Homo sapiens: one gene and its partners. The protein of the gene in region 1 binds, or shares a complex with, the protein of each later gene. Each region holds a gene or a part of one and is shown in the gene's direction. Other genes may lie near its edges. The genes, in order: ARMC8, GID4 and GID8.

What was found.
Region 2: the proteins of ARMC8 (region 1) and GID4 are in contact, whole or in part, in a cryo-EM structure (PDB 7NSC), measured with the Homo sapiens proteins. Residues at the interface, in NP_001350870.1 of Homo sapiens: Glu309, Pro310, Asp311, Val312, Asn371, Glu373, Arg406, His409, Arg413, Ser414, Val415, Gln416, Arg419, Thr420, Gln423, Asp424, Val444, Ser448, Cys451, Asn452, Leu455, Phe457, Ala483, Val486, Asn487, Trp490, Met493, Asn494, Phe497, Gln498; in NP_076957.3 of Homo sapiens: Leu104, Ile105, Pro106, Pro107, Pro108, Pro109, Ile110, Gln114, Pro115, Gly116, Val117, Ala118, Thr119, Gly125, Gln146, His147, Tyr154, Cys156, Tyr158, Phe174, Glu176, Phe239, Val241, Pro242, His244, His292, Ser293, Ala294, Pro295, Ile296.
Region 3: the proteins of ARMC8 (region 1) and GID8 are in contact, whole or in part, in a cryo-EM structure (PDB 7NSC), measured with the Homo sapiens proteins. Residues at the interface, in NP_001350870.1 of Homo sapiens: Asn45, Val47, Ile48, Gly49, Asn50, Val85, Ser89, Met92, Arg127, Arg130, Arg161, Tyr162, Tyr166, Leu200, Ser201, Tyr202; in NP_060366.1 of Homo sapiens: Ile83, Ala84, Asn87, His90, Pro91, Glu92, Leu94, Asp95, Thr96, Tyr101, Tyr183, Glu184, Asn185.

The regions. Positions count from the first base shown.
Region 1 is NC_000003.12:138,185,542-138,189,286, forward strand, and holds the start of ARMC8 (armadillo repeat-containing protein 8), read left to right. Parts: upstream 1-1,759; 5' UTR 1,760-2,013; coding exon 2,014-2,058; intron 2,059-2,859; exon of another isoform or gene 2,860-2,986; coding exon of another isoform or gene 2,987-2,989; intron 2,990-3,745. UniProt on the Homo sapiens protein: Component of the CTLH E3 ubiquitin-protein ligase complex that selectively accepts ubiquitin from UBE2H and mediates ubiquitination and subsequent proteasomal degradation of the transcription factor HBP1.
Region 2 is NC_000017.11:18,056,333-18,060,077, forward strand, and holds part of GID4 (glucose-induced degradation protein 4 homolog), read left to right. Parts: intron 1-370; coding exon of another isoform or gene 371-694; exon of another isoform or gene 695-1,139; intron 1,140-2,535; coding exon 2,536-2,637; intron 2,638-2,943; coding exon of another isoform or gene 2,944-2,967; exon of another isoform or gene 2,968-3,416; intron 3,417-3,745.
Region 3 is NC_000020.11:62,935,990-62,939,734, forward strand, and holds the start of GID8 (glucose-induced degradation protein 8 homolog), read left to right. Parts: upstream 1-2,157; 5' UTR 2,158-2,264; exon of another isoform or gene 2,265-2,835; intron 2,836-3,745. UniProt on the Homo sapiens protein: Core component of the CTLH E3 ubiquitin-protein ligase complex that selectively accepts ubiquitin from UBE2H and mediates ubiquitination and subsequent proteasomal degradation of the transcription factor HBP1.

The DNA.
Region 1 (3,745 bases):
TTTTTTCACTCTCCCTGACCTATCAATTTTGTTCCCTGAAAGCACTTACTAAATAAACAAAATGCACCCAAATCTTCGTCCCAGGCTCAAACTAAGCCAAAAATTCGTACAACAAACATTTACTAAGTGACTGTGCTAGGCACTGAGATAGACAACCTAGAAGATAAAACTCCCAGTGCCTGTCTTGAAGTGTATAGTGAGACAAACACGGAAACAATTAACAACAACAAAACCACCCTACAATTAAAGTGAAGTATGAAGGCATGGGGGAAAGGGTATCTAACCCATGCCTGGGGGAGACAATTCCTGGAGGATGTATTGCTTGAGCTAATGGATGGAGTGTGGATCAAATACAGTTATAATGACTCTATATACTATGTATTAGGGTTATGTTCTGCCCCATTGCAGTATGCAGTACATGATGTGATTTTAGGTGGTCCATGGATGGACATTTAAACTTTTTGTAGTTAATGTGTACTAGAATAAAAATAAGGAGCACAACAAACTTGATTTCACAGAGTATTATGGTTTAGGATAAAGCCAAAAATTTTTAATGAGTTGAAATTGGCTTTAAATAAAAATATTGAATGAATAATAATACCTAGGTGCAGATTGGCAAAGATTGTGTAGGTGGTGTACAGATTACCCAAGTTTCAGAAATAGTATTATAGCAGAAGGACTACCTAAAATAAAATTCCTGCCTTCCAGGAATTCAACAGTTTGTTAAGGAACACAGACCCATAAGCAGGGGTGGTAAATGCTACACTAAATTTGGAAACCAAGTACAGGAGGAAGACAGGAAAACAGTGAGGAGCAGAGTGCGGGAGAGGCTACCAGCTACAAGACCAGTTGGAAGGCTATTGCTGTAGTCCAGGGGAGAGGTTACAAGAGCCTGAATTAGGGTGTGGCTATAGAAATGGAAGGAATACAAGTAATGTTAACAGGCCAATTGCAACCATACTGTGAAAACCTTACTGGTTGCAAGCAGTACGAAGGTGAAACTTATCCAACCAAGTCAAGGGCAGTGTTGCACACACACACACACACACACACAAAGTAGTAGGACAGCTGAATTAATCAAGTATAATTGAAAGCATACTTTTATTTAGCTTCGGTTATGAGAGTGTTTTAGTGCGAAATATTTAGATATTTGCCCCCATTTTCCCCACTTAACTCAGAAGCTGGAGAAATGTTAACACATATTGTATAACGCTTTCTATGTTCTAGGTTTTTTCTGAGAGCTTCACGTTTGTTGACTCCTCTATCCTCATTAACCTTTATTTTATAGATGAGGAAACTCAAACAGAAGGTTAGATAACTTGCCCAGGGTAAAGCAGCTGATAAATCAAGTAGCTAGGAAGAAACCCAAGCATTCTGGCTATTCTTAACACTACACCAGAATAAACGGGGCCGGCACACAACGCTAAGGCAAGTCACGTATCTGTATCGGATCGTGAAACAATCACTCTTACGGTTGGCAAAGGTTCTGGGATCGCAATTTCCCCACCTATAAAATGGAGATAACGACGCCGGGAGTTTGGTGCAGAGAGAGAGAATGAATATGAAAGTGAACTTCAAACTATGTATGTGGCTCCACGTACTACTTTTTCCAAATATGAATACTGGAATCCATAAACTGCAATTTATCAGTCCGTAAAACTCGTAGCGTCAGGGCGAGACTCCGCCTCTGGGGCCCCGCCCACCGCGAGCGGCAGGTGGGGCCGGCAGATCTTCTTTGCGCATGCGGAAACCGCTGCCCGCTTCCACCTCTAACCCAGGCTCAGAGTAGCTGCTGTTTCTGAGAGAACGATTCGTAGGACAGCCCCTGACGCCATTCCCTTTTGCCCTTCTTTCTGCGGGCCTTTCCGGTACTTGAGCGGTGTCCAGAGCGTGGCCAGTTCTCGTCTATCTGGCTGCCTTTAGGGAGCGGTGCCTAGCGTTGGCCAATAGTTGGCTGTCGAAAGTGCCGGCCCCCGCGCCGGCGCCTGCAGCAGCCGGGTGGGAAGGCTCAAGATGGCGTGCTTGTTGGAGACCCCAATCCGCATGAGCGTCCTTTCGGTGAGTGACCCGCCGCGGCCGCCCGCCCGCCCTCCAGGAAGCCTCATCCCGGTCTCCACCATTCCCCCAAGCGTGGTGTGCCTCCTGGGCACCACCCCCTGGGGTGGACCCCGGCTCAGTCTCGGGCCAGGGAGTGAGCGAGGGTGGAGAGGCGGGATAGACGGGCAGAGGGGACCGCGGCCGAGCCAAAGACGTTTCCAACTCCGGGAGCTCCCGCCGGTGCGGGTTCCCAGGATGGCGTCTGGCAGGCGGGGTGGCTGGGCTTATAGACAACTGGCTGGGCGGCGCGGCTTGGACTTTGCCAAGCGTTTCACTGAGCCTTCCTTTTAGCGATGCCGCTTCCCGGGGGCCGAACGCTCTGCCTTGTGAAGCGCCGGGCTTGCAGCCGGCCTGAGAACGAGCGCCCACTCAGCTCTCCCGGGCTTTGGCAAGAAGAGGTGCAGGCTCCTTGGCCCCCATTTCCTCAGAGCTGCCAGGCCAAGTCTGTGCGGCTTCTATCGCGTCCCAGCACCTGGGCACCGGCTGAAGCAGTTTGCTTTTTGGCAATGGTGATTCGTATCAGCTGCAACTCTTCCTAGTGTGTGTGGTTTTTTAAGCCCCTTTCCTCCGCTCTGCTCAGAGGTCGCGGCTCTGAGTCAGAGGAACTCTATGTTCCCTGTGCCTGGTATTCCGTTTTTCTTTAAGGGGAGTCAAACATTGAAGGGGGGAAAAGGGGGTGAGATTTATTTCCCCATTGTTGAAAGAAGGGAACGTATTGACATGCCAGGAAGTAAAACCTGTTTTTTTTTTTTTTAAAAAAAGTTTTTTTAAAGAAAAAGACGACTTTCACCTTTCACTATGTTGCTCTTGAACCAGGACCAGGAATGAAAGTTACTGGGAGATAACTTCGAAGGATTTTGCAACAAATTCGAGCTGTCCGACTCTGAGAATGGTCAGTTTACCAATGGTTCATTTGCTATTGTTGGAAACAAGCAGGCAAATACTGATTGACCATCTTTTAGACTTGTGGAAGCCAGTCTGATACTGAGAGGGTAGTTGGATTATAAATGACTTGTCGGGTTCCTAGAGTCTTGTAACTACAACCGGTTTCTTTTCTCTTCTCTGACTTGTCCCACAAACAAACTCACCTATCTGAAAACACCTAGGACATTTGCTTATGATTCAGGGTTAGAGCAGTGTGGCAGACCTCAACCTTGAAAAGGCTTAAGTTGTCAATACAATAATAATTTTGTGAGGCTGTCAACAGATTTTTCCCCTGATCCATTTTAGCAGTCATTTTTTCTTATTTTTAAACTGCAACTAAGGAAATACTGTTTACCTAAGTATTAGATCAGATTAGCCTGTTACTCCATCACTGACTGTAATACCCAGGAATATTCTGTGGGAGTGCAGGCCAATGACTTTTACCTCATTATGTTAAAAAAAAATAGTATGTGTCTTGGCTGTTCTCAGTTCTCCTTTAATTATTCATTTAGATTTCATTTATCCTTCAGTTCACCTGAAGTTTACTTTTTGGATGTTGTCAACTTGTATAATGCATATGATTGAAAGTTTTCATTTGTTTCACTTCCTTGGTAAATAATATTTTCTGCTTATTTTATTCAAAAACTTCTTGAAGAGTATTTTCTATTAATACTTCTATTTAGGATTTGCCTTTAGCCCTAGTCTCATTAGGGGCTTTTTTTTT
Region 2 (3,745 bases), on another chromosome or scaffold:
ATGCACAAGACCTGAGTATCCAGAAGGTTGGGGGAGCCCAAGTGGTGTATGAAGGTGCTGGCCACCAGCAGGTGGAGTTGGAAGGGCTCCCTAGTACCATCTGCGCCCACCCCTGCCCAGGGCTAGGCTCTTCCTGCATGGCTTGCTGCCTCACGAGATGGCTCCTTCCTCTCCTGTACAGTCCCAGAGTAGAAGGTTCTTCCTTGTAGTAAACCACAGCCTCTCTCCCATTCAACTCTATTTTCCATTTCATATTGGTCCTGCAAAAAGCAAAGTCTTTGAGGCCCAGTGACACTCAGTTTTAGGCTAGGTTGACTACAAATTAAATACTTGGAAAGCAACTCTTAATTTTCCCATTGACTTCCGTTAGAACATTGGAAGATATCTGGATCTGCAGACTCTGCTAGACTGGACTGAAACATTTTGGGTGAGAGAGGAACTAAGAAGGCCACCCTTGGTACTGGCATGTGAGGTGTGGTTGAGCCAGGGAGCTGAACCTATGGAGTGCTTCCTCCTCCAACAGTTTGTGGCTGCTTTTGTAGTACTCAGCATTTCCCCTAACTTTCACCACTCATGGAGGACTCCCAGGTTCCCACGTGGGACTCCTGGAGCTCTGTACTGCACCTGGGTTTGTCTGAGATTTACAATGTCTAATACACTTCACCTAGGCTGTCATTTTTTCATTATAAACTAGAATCAGAGATATTGTATTGCATCCTCAGATTTTCCTGAGTGGTATTTAAGTTGCTATTATAGTGGTACTATAAAGTCAGGATTCCATATATTCAGTCTACATAGGATAAAAATGTCTATGTGACACCAGGTGTGGTGGCTCATGCCTGTAATGCCAGCACTTTGGGAGGCCGAGGCAGATGGATCACCTGAGGTCAGGAGTTCGAGAACAGCCTGGCCAACATGGTGAAACCCCATCTCTACCAAAAATATAAAAATTAACCAGGCATGGTGGCACACACCTGTAATCCCAGCTATTCGGGAGGCTGAGGCAGGAGAGTCACTTGAACCTGGGAGGCGGAGATTGCAGTGAGCTGAGATCATGCCATTGCACTCCAGCCTGAGCAACAAGAGCAAGACTTTGTCTCAAAAAATAATAATAAAATAAATCTATGTGACAAAATCTATGACTTAATATCTCTGTGTCTTGATTTTTTATTTAAGATGTTTTCTTATCAAATTAACACATGCTTGTTTAAAAATATTTGAAAAAATAGAAAAGCTGGAGGAAAAGGAGTCATCTATGGCAACACCTAAAACTAAAATAGCTGTTAACCTCTTCCTGAATCTCTTTTGGGTATACAGTGTATACTTGTTTTTTGTCTTTTTTTTAAAAAATGGGATCATAAAATACAGTTTTGTAACCTATTCCTAATCTCCTGTTGTAAATGTAGTCAGCCCTCCATATATGTGGGTTCTGTATCTGTGGATTCAACCAGCCACAGTTTGAAAATATTTGAAAAAAAAAATTGCATCTGTACTGATGATGTATAGATTTTTTTTTTTTGAGACAGAGTCTCGCTCTGTTGCCCATGCTGGAGTGCAGTGGCACGATCTCGGCTCATTGCAAGCTCCGCCTCCCGGGTTCACGCCATTCTCCTCCTCAGCCTCCCAAGTAGCTGGGACTACAGGCGACCACCACCACACCCAACTAATTTTTTCATATTTTTAGTAGAGACAGGGTTTCATCGTGTTAGCCAGGATGGTCTTGATCTCCTGACCTTGTGATCTGCCTGCCTTGGCCTCCCCAAGTGCTGGGATTACAGGCGTGAGCCCCCACACCCAGTGGATGTATAGATTTTTTGTTCTTGATATTTTTCCCTGAACGATACAGTATAACCACTATTCACTTAGTATTTACATTGAATTAGGTATTATAAGCAATCTAGAGATGCTATAAAGTATAGGGGAGGATGTGTGTAGGTTATCTGCAAATACTGCACTGTTTTATATCTGGGACTTAAGCATCTGCAGATTTTGGTATTCATGGGGGTCCTGGAACCAATCTCTCGCAGATATCGAAGGACAAGGCTATCATGTGTTTCTAGTGTCTGCTTAGCTAGCTGGCCCAAGCCCCTAGATCATGCAGAGACACAAGCTTCACAAAGCCCTCTTCTCTGAGACTGGGCAGGCTGTTTCTAAGCTGTTTTGCATGGCTCTTTTTGCTACTTCGGATTTACTTGCAGAGGTCTTCTCATTAATTTTTCTTAGCTTTCGTCTGTTTATTTTGTCTGTCTGTTCACCATTCCCATCCTTTGGCCTTTTCCTCAGCCATGTTAACAAGGCAGGTGTAGGGCAGTGGGGCCCCAGCTGGAGTCCAGGTATCTGCCCCAGGGTTGAGTCTGCATTCAATGGGGTGACCATAGGGCCCCATCTGTTACTTGGTCTTAGCTGCCCTTTTGGGAGCCACGTCCCTAGCTGTCATGCCTTGGGAAGGTGAGTTTACCTGGGCACATAAGCATAGTTCTGAGAGCAGCCTCTCCTTCTCTCAGTCAATCGGCACACTCTCTTTTCTGCTTTCAGGGCAAGTTTCTGGCTTTTTATCAGTATGCAAAATCATTTAACTCAGATGACTTTGATTATGAAGAGCTGAAGAATGGAGACTACGTCTTCATGAGGTGGAAGGTAAGTTCCCACCAGGTGGCCCTCCAGACTCCCAGCAAGCCAGGCCCTGTATCGCACCTACATATTCACTCTAACCAAGGGCTCCCCATGTCCAGTGCTCGTCACAGCTGGTTGTCATGGCAAAGTCTTCATGGCAGGGTCTTTGCACGCCTATAAAAAGTGGGCCCAGCTCCAGGGCACGCACTGGTTAACTGCCGATGTCCCAGACAGCTCCTCCTCGCTGTGCTTTTGGTGGGTAGCAAGTGGATTTGGGCCTAGGTGGCTGCCTCTAACATTGTCTTCTCCCTTTCCTTTCTCCCACCCAAGAATCTTGTTGAACCCCCAAGTTGAATCACTCCAAGTGTTCTGTGGATTCAAGGCAGAGCCAAACTTGCTTTGAACTTAGTCATCAGTTGTACCCAGATCCCTCTACAGGCTTAAACACCATCCGTGGGCCAGGTGCCCTCCACCACATCCTTTTCCCAGAGCTCAGGAAAGTCTCACCTCCTCTACTTCCCTCCAGCTCAGGAAATGAGGGACCGGGAATGGAACACGGGTTTTTGACTCAGCAGACCTCAGAGAGCCCCACCTGACTGACTTGATGGATTGGCTTTTAGCTGCGAGGTCATTTGTGCTCCCTGCTTTGATAACGTGATATTTACAGCCCCAGAATAGCAAAATCAGGAAGCCAGTTTGTTAAATAACTTTGAGAACATACCAACCCCTAGTCCCCAGTCTGCAGGGAAAAAGTCGTTTTATCTTGAAATCTTGTCAGCTTTCATAAAGATGAATCATATTGAGTTGCCTTTCCTGGTCTTTATTTTGCATAGCTAACCACTTTAGGAAGTGGGGATCGGCCGGGCGTGGTGGATCACACCTGTAATCCCAGCACTTTGGGAGGCTGAAGCAGGCAGATCATGAGGTCAAGAGATTGAGACCATCCTGGCCAACATGGTGAAAACCCATCTCTACTAAAAAATACAAAAAATTAGCCGGGCATGTTGGCATGCCCCTGTAGTCGCAGCTACTCAGGAGGCTAAGGCAGGGGAATCACTTGAACCTGGGAGATGGAAGTTGCAGTGAGCTGAGATCACGCCACTGCACTCCAGCCTGGCGACAGAGCAAGACT
Region 3 (3,745 bases), on another chromosome or scaffold:
GGAGGAGCATTAACCTGTGACCCACAGGCAGGCACTGAGACAGCCTCTTTGGACTGGAATGTTAAGGAATGTCGCCTTAAGGCGCTAGCACTCAAGCTTTCTGCTCGTGCATCCCCTTGCACACTTTCTCCTTGACGTTCAGGCTGGGCATGGTGGCTGACGCCTGTAAACCCAGCACTCCCAGAGGCCGAGGCGGGAGGATGGCTTGAGCCCAGGAGATCGAGACCAGCCTGGGCAAGAAGGCAAGACCCCGTCTCTAAAAAACTTTAAAAAATAAAAATAGGCCGGATGCGGTGGCTCATGACTGTAATCCGAGCACCTTGGGAGGCCGAGGTGGGTGATCATTTGAGGTCAGGAGTTCGAGACCAGCCTAGCCAACATGGTGAAACCCCACCCGTACTAAAAATACAAAATAAGTAGCCGGGCGTGGTGGCGGGTGCCTGTAGTTCCAGCTACTCGGGAGGCTGAGGCAGGAGAATCACTTGAACCCAGGAGGCGGAGGTTGCAGTGAGTCGAGATCATGACAGTGCACTCCAGCCTGGGCAACAAAGTGAGACTCCTTCTCAAAAAATAGAATAAAATAAAATCAAAATAGGCCGGGAGCGGTGGCTCACGCCTGTAATCCCAGCACTTTGGGAGTCCGAGGCGGGCGGATCACGAGGTCAAGACACTGAGACCAGCCTGACCAACAAGGGGAAACCCCGTCTCTACTAAAAATACAAAAATTAGCTGGGCGTGGTGGTGCGCCCCTGTGGTCCCAGCTACTCGGGAGGCTGAGGCAGGAGAATCGCTTGAACCCGGGAGGCGGAGGTTGCAGTGAGCCGAGATGGCGCCACTGCGCTCCAGCCTGGGCGAGAGTGAGACTTCGTCTCAAAATAAATAACTAAATAAAGACCAATAACTGTTTCCCATAGGGTTATGTAGTTGCAAATGAAAAAATTACTGGCATGTACTGCCTCTGCATATGAAGCATAATTTTGTCAAGACCTTATACCTGCAGATTTAGCTCTTTCGATTAACGGAAAATGTCCAAAATCAGTCTCCTCCAACCTATTTGCCGAACTGGACTTACTGTCGCTGAGTAGACCGACCGACATAGCTTACACGTTGTTCAGCTCGCTTGTAAGCAAACACACGAAACCACCTCACCCCTGACTTCAGAAAGAAGCCGTCCCGTGAATTCCTCACAGATGAAATCAGGAGCTGCCCCTCAAGGACTCTATTTCTTCCTTCGGCTCTATCAAATATTTTAAGGTACTTCCCAGCAACGGAAACATGGGACCCTGCAATGACAGACTTCGCATTCCTCCTGAGCGGACAGGCAATAAGCAAGTAAACGCGCAAATACCCAAGTGCGGCCTCAACCCGCGCTCCTGCCGGGAGGGTCTCCAGTCACCGAGTAACCCCGGCCCTGCCCCGCGCCGCCGCCGGGACTCCGCCCCGCAAGCAAGTGGGGTCTCCTTTGTCCCGCGCGCCCTGGCCGCGTCCCGCCCTTCGGCGTAGCCCATGGGAGGCGCCCTGAGGGCAGGGCCCTTCTGATTCCCCACCTGGCCTCGAGTGAGGACGCGCTCAACAACATCTCGAGTAAAGCGGGGGAACTCGCTTCAACGCGCAGACAGCACAGCTCTCGCCCAGCCCGGTCTCGGGTCAGCCGTCTCTCCCTGGACCTCAGGGACACTAGCCCTGGAAGGCCGCCGGTCGGGAGGGGACTCCCTCCCCGTCTGAGGGGCGGCCGCGGACACCCGGCGCCTTTCCCCCGCCCCACCCCGTGCGGCCTCACGCAAACGACAGGAAAAAAGCTGGGACCTTCGCCTCCGACTCAGTGTAGACGTCGCCATCCCGGTTCCAGATTTCCGCGCTCCAACGCCTCCGCAGCAGCCATCTTGCCAGAGGGCCGACGCCTTTTGACTCTGGCGCCAACCCGTAGTGCGTGGTCGCCGCGAGGGGAGTTCTGCGCAAGTACGGAAGCTGAGGTTCCGCGCTTCCGGGAGGCCGTCCGCCCCGCCCCCTCGCGGGGGCGCTTCATTGGTCATCGGCTCGCGCTCTCGCGCTCTCTTGCTGTCGCGAGAGGTGCTGAGGGGCGGCCTCCGGTGCGCCTGCCCTCCCGCTCCCCGCCCCCGCCCCCGCCCCCGCCTCCGCCGCGGCCCCCACCTCTGCCTCCTTCTACTCGGGCGCCCCGGCGGCCGCCACCTCTCCCCAGCCCAGGAGAGGCTGCGGAGCCGCAGCCGCCCAGACCGCGCAGCGCGGGAGGCAGGTTCCGCACGGTAAGATGGCGGCGGCGGGCCCGGGCGGCCGGGCCGAGCGTCTCCCGGGGCCGGGCCGGGCGGGCAGGCGGGATGTGGCCGGGGTGCGCGCCGCCCCCGCTCTGGGGGCCTTGGAAGCGCCGGCGCTGGCAGGTGCGGAATTGGGGCGCGCAGTGAGTCCAGGCCCGGACGGCCGCCCCGCGCCGGTGCCCAGGGGGCAGTCAGGGCTCAGCCTCCAGGCGCGCGGCCTCAGGCGCTGGTGTTCTGGGGCGGTCCCGGCCAGCCTGAGGGGCGGCGGTAGCTGTCTCTGTGGAGGAGCGACGTCCGTAACGAAGTCTTTTTAATAAAATCTGCTGCTTTAAAGCAGAAACCGAGCGGGTGAGGATGTAAAGTGTGGCATGGAAAGTAGGAGTCTTCAGCACACGGGTGTTTTCTTCTGCTGAATCTTTTTATGCTGGAGTTTGAGACTACCGAGTTCTTCCTGCTAACAGGACTGGCCAGTTCTACAAAGTTGTTGCTTTTCATGGGCGCACGTAACTGCCCGGAGTGGAAGCGCTGTGAGTGCCGATCACCGAATGGGCCGAGAGAAAAGGTGCCTTTTCCTAGGGAGCTCTTAACGTTGGTCCTAGGGCCGGGCGCGGTGGCGGAGGTCGAAGTGGGCGGATCACTTGAGCCCGCGAGTTCGAGACCAGCCGTGGCAACAGCGAGACTCCCTTCTCTGCTAAAAATAAAAAAATTAGCCAGGCAGAGTGGTGCGCTCCTGTTGTCCCAGTTACTCTGGAGGCTGAGGTGGGAGGATCGCTTGAGCCCAGGAGGTCGAGGCTGCGGTGAGCCATGATCGCGCCACTGCCCTCCAGCCTGGGCGACAGAGCGAGGCTCTGTCTCAAAAAAAAAAGAAAAAGAAAATGAGTCCTTAAGTTACCATTAATTGTCGTGAATAAAAAGTTGGTCTCAGTGAGTTTTGCAGTTGACAACGAAAGATGGGTGTTCGTGTGTGACAGCGACTCCTGGTTTCTCCTCCACTTTACCTGCCGCTCCACATCAAGTTTTCTTCTGCTGGTGCCACTTTCTCTGCTTTACCTTCAAGGTTGGCATCCTCCAAGTAATGGCGATTCTCATTCCCTATCTACGCTCTTCCTATGGTCTTTGCTGAATTCTTGGCTTTAAATATCCCTGTGCCCCAGCACCGCCCCCCCCGCCCCTTATTTCACTAATTCATGTTTTCAGCTCTGAGCTCAGGATCTGTAATTCAGACACCTGCTTGATTTCTCCAGACGCATGTCTAATAGTCACGTCAAACTTGCCCTGCTTCTCAAACCTGTTCTTCTTCCAGTCCTTCCTCCTTATTTGTGGCCCCATCTTGCAGGGCCTCTCATGCTTGAAACCTGTGACCATCTTCTATTCTTCCCTCTCTTTTGTCCGGTAATCTGTCTAGCAGCAGCCATTGACTCTGGCCAAAGCATCTTGATCTCACCTTGCTCTCCATCTCTTCTGCCGATGTT